2 linked regions of the Homo sapiens genome follow. The protein of the gene in region 1 purifies or fractionates together with the protein of each later gene. This does not show direct contact. Each region holds a gene or a part of one and is shown in the gene's direction. Other genes may lie near its edges.

Evidence for each region.
Region 2: the proteins of AMPD3 (region 1) and LRBA fractionate together in Homo sapiens (co-fractionation; one large-scale study listed by BioGRID). This does not show direct contact.

What each region holds. Positions count from the first base shown.
Region 1 is NC_000011.10:10,479,090-10,482,908, forward strand, and holds part of AMPD3 (AMP deaminase 3), read left to right. Parts: intron 1-2,973; coding exon 2,974-3,136; intron 3,137-3,819. UniProt on the Homo sapiens protein: AMP deaminase plays a critical role in energy metabolism.
Region 2 is NC_000004.12:151,005,283-151,009,101, reverse strand, and holds part of LRBA (lipopolysaccharide-responsive and beige-like anchor protein), read left to right. Parts: intron 1-3,819. UniProt on the Homo sapiens protein: Involved in coupling signal transduction and vesicle trafficking to enable polarized secretion and/or membrane deposition of immune effector molecules. Involved in phagophore growth during mitophagy by regulating ATG9A trafficking to mitochondria.

The sequences.
Region 1 (3,819 bases):
AAGCCATGGTACTGAGTGGTTTGTGTGAAATTAGTTGTTGCTAAATCATCTCTTCTTATATGTAGGTTCAATACCCTTAAATATAGGCTAGATCCCTTCAACCAGGAAGAGAGAATCTTGTTTAGAAATTGAGCAAATTGGTTTACACTAAGTCAATTAACGCAGTCACTGAAAATGTGCTAATTTCACCTGATTGGATGATGCATTTTTTATGCATGTCTGCTTCTTGGAGAGAAATATCACTGAGTTAGTGCCAGGGTTAAGTTTGGCTCCATCTCCCTGGCCCCAACTCACTACTTAACGCCTCAGTTGGCTTCATTAGTCTCTTTTTAACAGTAGCTGTAGAAAATATGGTGAATCTGAGAAAGCAATGCAGCTTATTGCTCTTCCTATAAAATTTCCCCTAGCTTTCAAAAATTTTTTTGGTTATGTGTAATGGAGAACACTTGCAGATGGTACAAAATTTAAAAGATACAAAAATGGTATCAATTATTCAGCCACCCATTCTCCTCCTCAGAGGCAACCACTGGTTTTAGTTTCTTATGTATTCTCACATATATGGTCTATGTACCTACAATTATTTATGCATACATAGTTTATTTACTTATTTTTACAAAAATGGTAGTTTACAATATACATTATACTGCATCTTGCATTTTCCACTTAACAATACATCTTAAAGATAATGCCATATCAATATATAAAGAACTTCTTTGTCCTTTTAAAAAATATGTACATAGTATTCCTTTATGAGGATATATCATAGCTTATTTTAATTAAGTTCCCATGGATGGGAGTTTAGGTTGGGTTGGAAACAATGCAGGCCTTGTCTGGAGATCAGCATCCTGACCATGAGTCTTTGGTGTTCACCCAACCTGAGGCAGGTGGGCAGGGCATTGGAAAGCAAGAGTCGAGGTGGGTCGGCCACCAGCTGAATGGGAGGATGTCAGCCTGTAGCATATAATAGCTTCTTTCTCCCAGTCTCCTGGCTGGCACAGAGTAGTGCATGGAGCACCTGAACTGGGCAACTGGTCCTCAGAAAGCTAAGTGTCTGTGAGAGGCAGGCTGATCTTGCAGATCTCCTTGGCACGCAGTAGGTCTGCTGTCAGCCATGGGGCCTGTGATGCCTGTAAGCTTGGCCGGTGGCCACGGGTCCACAGGGGTCCTGAGCATCCTCTCTGATGTCCTTAGCCATGGCATGAGCCCCTTGTCATGCTGAGTCCATTGGTTCCCCAGAGAAAGAATTTGGCTTCGTTGTTGGCAGGGACATATTTTTGTCTAGGATGTCGGTGTCTGCTCACCTATTCCTGCCGCTCTCAGAAGCCATCCACTGGAAGATGTAAAAGGAATTAACATACCTTATGGGGACATTTGGAGGCAGGAAAGGAGAATCTACCATCGTAACAAAAAGTCTTGCTTTTTGTATTTAGTATTTACTAAATACTACTTCTTAGTAGTATTTAGTAAAAGTATAAAAACATGCATAGGAAAAATATATTCAGACTTCTTCCCTCTGAGGATGGGGTAGGGAGGAGAGTAGAGTTTTAGCTGTATCTGTGATGATTTATTTCTTTAAACCTGTGAGAAATTTGAAAGAATTATGCTAAATATTATTGTCAGCTCTAGAAGGTAGGTTATATTATCTTTGGTGCCTGTCTGTATGTTTAAAATATTACAAAATTAAAAATGATGATTTTATTAAAGCAGAGGAGATCACTTTCAGGCCCCAGCCCTCCCCACTCTGGGCTATGCCAGCATATGGTGCCTCCCTCTGCTGTTCCCCTTACCCTGCATTGTGTCTGTCTGGCCACTTGTCTCCCCAAGCATATTTCTGCGATTCCCATCCTTCCCAAACAGACTAAGATTAATGAGCCTGTTGGAAGGCGGGAATTTATCTCATTCATCTTTGAATATGAGGCTGCTCTGGTAAAGCAGAACATCCTTAGACTTTGGGACTCAATCAGGTTAGAGTCTGAAATTTGACTCTGTAGCTTCCTGGCAAGTGATTTATCCTCTCTGGGCCTCAGTTTTCCCATTTGCAAAATGGGTTGCTGTAAGGAGCAAAATGAAATCTATGGAAAGGTCTGGCACATAACACATGACAATGGGGCTTGTTGCCTGGATGAGTTGGGTGATTAACAGAGTTAATCAGAAGTGTGGGGTTGGCAAAGAAGCAGGCTGAGCATGCAGAATTTGCTTTTGCTTCTTGTTTTGTTTCGCCATCTGAAGGACACATGAATTTTCTCAACTGAAAATGACGGTGCTCATCGCCTTCAGGGATAGGACTCAGGCTTTGTCCCTCCATGGGCCTGGTACAAAAACAGACTTTTGGCTTAATTAGCTGCATGTGAGGCCGGCTTCTGGGTGTGCAGGCTGGAGCACTTGTCTGTCTTCCAACGACCCTAACTCCTCCTGTGTCTCCTGTGTTGGGGGTCTCCAAGACCACTCCAGGTTGGATGATTCACCAGGAGGACTCACAGGACTCAGCATATAGCTGTACTTACAGCTTTGATTTATTACAGTGAAAGGATACAGAGCAAATCAGCAAAGGGAGCGATACATGGAGGATACGAGGTGCAAGCTTCCAAGGTCCTCTCCCAGCAGAGTCATCAGAACATACCAAATACCTCCAGCATCACATTGTGACAGCACATGTGGGAAGTGTTGTTTACCAGGGAAGCTCATTAGAGATTCGGTGCCCAGGGTTTTCACTGGGGCTGGTCACATGTCTGCATAGCACATCTCAAATTCCAGGCTCCAGAAGGAAAGCAGGTGTCCAACATAAACCATATTGTTTGTACAAGTAGTTTAGGTGCAATGAACCACTCTTATTGGTCAAGGAGTGGTGAGAACCCTCCTGAAATCTAGGTTCCCAGATACCAGGCAAGGGCCAATCTTGCAAGCACATCTTTCCAAGGATGGCAGTCTCAGGCCTGCTGCATGAACCCTTTCCTGCCTGCCTCCCTTCTGCAGATCACTTTGGAGGACTATGAGCAGGCAGCCAAGAGTCTGGCCAAGGCCCTAATGATCCGGGAGAAGTATGCGCGGCTCGCCTACCACCGCTTCCCGCGGATCACATCCCAGTACCTGGGTCATCCGCGGGCGGATACTGCACCTCCGGAAGAGGGCCTTCCAGGTATGGAGCTCTGGCTGGAGGTTGGGTCCCAAGTGTGGGCAGACCGAGAGCTAGTCAGGGCTTTTTTCTGGCTCGGTCTATTTCCCCTGATAGTATTTTAAAATGACAATGTTCTTTCATTGGCTTCTCCCACACTGATGTTTGATGGTTCCCCCAAGGATTGATTCTATGTGTACTGTATGCCTAGCCTGTGCAGAGCTGAACTGTTGAAGTCAAGACAGAGATGTGAAAGACAGTCCTTGTTCTTGGGAGTCCACCAGGGAGACAGGGAGTCTCATGTGGGAATTTTTTTTTTCTTTTTTTTTGAGATGGGTCTTGCTCTGTTGCTCAGGCTGGCATGCAGTGGTGCAATCATGGCTCACTGCAGCCTCAATCTCCTGGGCTCAAGCAATCCTACCACCTCAGCCTCTCAAGTAGCTGGGATCAAAGGCACACACCGCCACACCCAGCTAATTAAAAAAATATATATTATTATGTTTTGTAGAGATGGGGGTCTTACCATGTTGCCCAGGCTGGTCTTAAACTCCTGGGCTCAAGTGATCCTCCTGCCTTGGCCTCCCAAAGTGCTGGGATTATAGATGTGAGTCACTGCGCCTGGCCTCATGTGGCATATTTAAAAGAACACAATCACACAGTAAATGCCAAATTGGTGGTAGGGTGGATCGGGGTGGGAGTAGGAACAG
Region 2 (3,819 bases), on another chromosome or scaffold:
TGAGGTCAGAAGTTCAACACCAGCCTGTGCAACATAGTAAGACCTTGTCTGTATAAGAAAAAAAAATACCATTTTATATATATATATATATATATATATATATATATATATATTTTTTTTTTTTTTTTTTTTGAGATGGAGTCTCACTCTGCCACCCAGGCTGGAGTGCAGTGGCGTGATCTTGGCTCACTGCAACCTCCGCCTCCCGGGTTCAAGCAATTCTATCTCAGCCTCCTGAGTAACTGGTATTACAGGGATGCACCAGCAAGCCCGGCTAATTTTTGTATTTTTGGTAGAGATGGCGTTTCACCACGTTGGCTAGACTGTTCTTGAACTCCTGACCTCGTGATCCGCCTGCCTCAGCCTCCCAAAGTGCTCGGATTACAGGCGTGAGCCACTGCGCCCAGCCTAGAGGTGGCTTTTTTAAACCTTCATTGAGATATGCAGTTGACTCTTGAATAACATGAGTTTGAACTGCATGGGTCCATTTATATGGTGATTTTTTTTTTCAACCAAACTCGAATTGAAAATACAGTATTCCTGGGATGTGAAACTGTTGCATACTAAGGGCTTACTTTTTATATCACTGGGTTCCACAGGGCCATTGCAGGACTTATCTGAGTATGCTCAGATTTTGGTCTATGCAGGAGTCCTGGAACCAATGTCCCCAGTATAGCAAGGGACAACTGTATTTTACATGCCATAAAAACCACTAATTTTAGGCTGGGTGCGGTGGCTCATGCCTGTAATCACAGCACTTTGAGAGGCTGAGGCAGGTGGATCACCTGAGGTCTGGAGTTTGAGACCAGCCTGACCAACATGGATAAACCTGGTCTCTACTAAAAATACAAAAATTAGCCAGGTGTGGTGGCGCATGCCTGTAATCCCAGCTGCTTGGGAGGCTGAGGCAGGAGAATTGCTTGAACCCGGGAGGCGGAGGTTGTAGTGAGCAGAAATCACACCACTGCACTCCAGCCTGGGCAACAAGAATGAAACTCTGTCTCAAAAAGAAAAAAAAAAAAGAAAAAAACTTCTCATTTTAAGTATACAAGTCAATGATTTTTAGTAAATTTAAAGAGTTTTGCACCTATTACCACAATCTAATTTTAAAGCATTTACATCCTGTGTTCATTACTTTATAGTTTTAGCTGCTAAATTTAGGCCTATGATTCATTTTAAGTCAATTTTTGTATGGTGTGAGATAAGGGTAAGGGAAAGGTCTACATTCTTTTTTTTTTTTTTTTTGAGATGGAGTCTTGCTCTGTGGCCCAAGCTGGAGTGCAGTGGTGCGATCTCGGCTCACTGCAAGCTCCGCCTCTTTGGTTCATGCCATTCTCCTGCCTCAGCCTCCCAAGGAGCTGGGACTACAGGCGCCCGCCACCACGCCTGGCTAATTTTTTGTATTTTTAGTAGACACGTGGTTTCACCGTGTTAGCCAGGATGGTCTCGATCTCCTGACCTCGTGATCCGCCTATCTCGGCCTCTCAAAGTGCAGGGATTACAGATGTGAGACACCGCGCCCGGCCTACATTCATTATTTTGTATGTGGATATCCAATTGTTAAGAGTGCCATTTTTTTTTTTGTTTTTTTTTTTTTGAGACAGAGTCTCGCTCTGTCGCCCAGGCTGGAGTGCAGTGGCGCGATCTCCGCTCACTGAAAGCTCCGCCTCCCGGGTTCACACTATTCTCCTGCCTCAGCCTCCCAAGTAGCTGGGACTATAGGTGCCTGCCACCAGGCCTGGCTAGTTTTATTTTGTATTTTTTAGTAGAGACAGGGTTTCACTGTGTTTGCCAGGATGGTCTCCATCTCCTGACCTTGTGGTCCGTCCGCCTCGGCCTCCCAAGGTGCTGGGATTACAGGCGTGAGCCACTGCACCCGGCTAGAGTGCCATTTGTTGAAAGGCTATTCTTTTCCCATTGAATTACCTTGGCACTTTTGTCAAAAATCAGTTGAGCATAAATGTAAGGATTTATCTGGACTCAATTCTTTTCCATTTATCTATGTGTCTATTCTTAAACCAGTACCAAATTGCCTTTTGTTTACTGAAGATTTGTGGCGAGTTTTAAAATAGGGAAGACCTCTTTATTCTTCCTTTTCAAGACAGTTTTGGCTATTCTGGGCCCTTTGCATTTCCATGTGAATTTTAGGATCAGCGTATCAATTTTTGTAAAAAAGCAAGCTGGGATTTTACTAGCTATCATGAGTAGATATTATTGGTTATATATTAATATTAATGATAATTACAAGAAATTTGGGTGAATTGGTGAAATTTTAAAACTTCAAAGTTTCCTGGAAGTGACAGACTTGATAATTTAGGTTCCTGCAAGCATACAGTTTTGTTGACCTTTGAATTGATTTATTTTAAACTGAGAAATCATTTGGGAACTGGAAAATCAGATTTTTTTTTCCTGTTTGTGAATTAATAGAAAAACTAAGTAAGCTTTTTATTTCTCATACTGACCTAGTTGAACTAATCTATTATATTCACTTTTTATAAAGCATCCCTTTTCACACACATATTCTTGAAAATATTTTAAAATAGTTTTTATATGGTTGAAACAGAAATGTCCACAATGCATTTTTGTTTTATAATACTTATATAGATGTACAATAAGGTATTTTATTTATCTTTGTATCTCCAGAACTTTTTGAAGTGTTTTGATACTTCAAAAGTGTTAAATGGAAATGTCTTAATTTTTAAAATAAAAGTACAATCTTTAGGAAGCCTAGTTCCTATTATTCTTTTATTTTTATTTTATTTAATTTTATTTTTTTGAGACGGAGTCTCCCTCTGTCACCCATACTGCAGTGTAGTGGCGTGATCTCAGCTCACGGCAGCCTCCGCCTCTGGGTTCAAGTGATTCTCCTGCCTCAGCTTCCCGAGTAGCTGACCACCACTCCCTGCTAATTTTTGTATTTTTAGTAGAGACGGGGTTTCGCCATATTGGCCAGGCTGGTCCCGAACTCCTGACCTTAGGTGATCCGCCTGCCTTGGCCTCCTGCAGTGCTGAGATTACAGGTGTGAGCCACCATGCCCTGCCCTATTATTCTTTTCCGCAAAAGATATATTGTTAAAACCTTGATGCATATTTCCTTTATTATTTTGTTTCCTATGAAGTTATTTGTTAGGCAGTTTGTATTTTTCATTGTACAATTTTGAATTACTTTAGTCTGTTTTACCCTTAAGAGAACAGTGTTGCCGGGCATGGTGGCTCACGTCTGTAAGTCTGTAATCCCAGTGCTTTGGGAGGCCGAGGTGGGTGGGATCACCTGAGGTCGGGAGTTGGAGACCAGCCTGGCCAACATGTTCTCTACTAAAAAATACAAAATTAGCCAGGCGTGGTGGCGGGCACCTGTAGTCCCAGTTACTAGGGAGGCTGAGGTAGGAGAATTGCTTGAACCTGGGAGGTGGAGGTTGGTGTGAGCTGAGATTGCACCACTGTGCTCCAGCTTGGGTGACAGAATGAGATTACGTCTCCAAAAAAAAAAAAAAAAAAAGCCTGGGTAACAGAGCAAGACTCTGTCTCCAAAAAAAAAAAGAACAGTGTCATTATTTTCAAAAGTCTCTTATAATCTACTCTGTATAGTTTTCTAGTATTCATTCATTAGCTCTCATCTAATGTGGTATATACAGGGTTTTTTTTTTTTTTTTTTTTTTTTTTTGAGTTGGAGTCTTGTACTGTTGTCTGGGCTGAAGTGCAATAGTGCGATCTTGGCTCACTGCAACCTCCGCCTCCCGGGTTCAAGGGATTCTCCTGTCTCAGCCTCACTGGGATTACAGGCGCCTGCCACCACCCCTGGCTAATTTTTTGTATTTG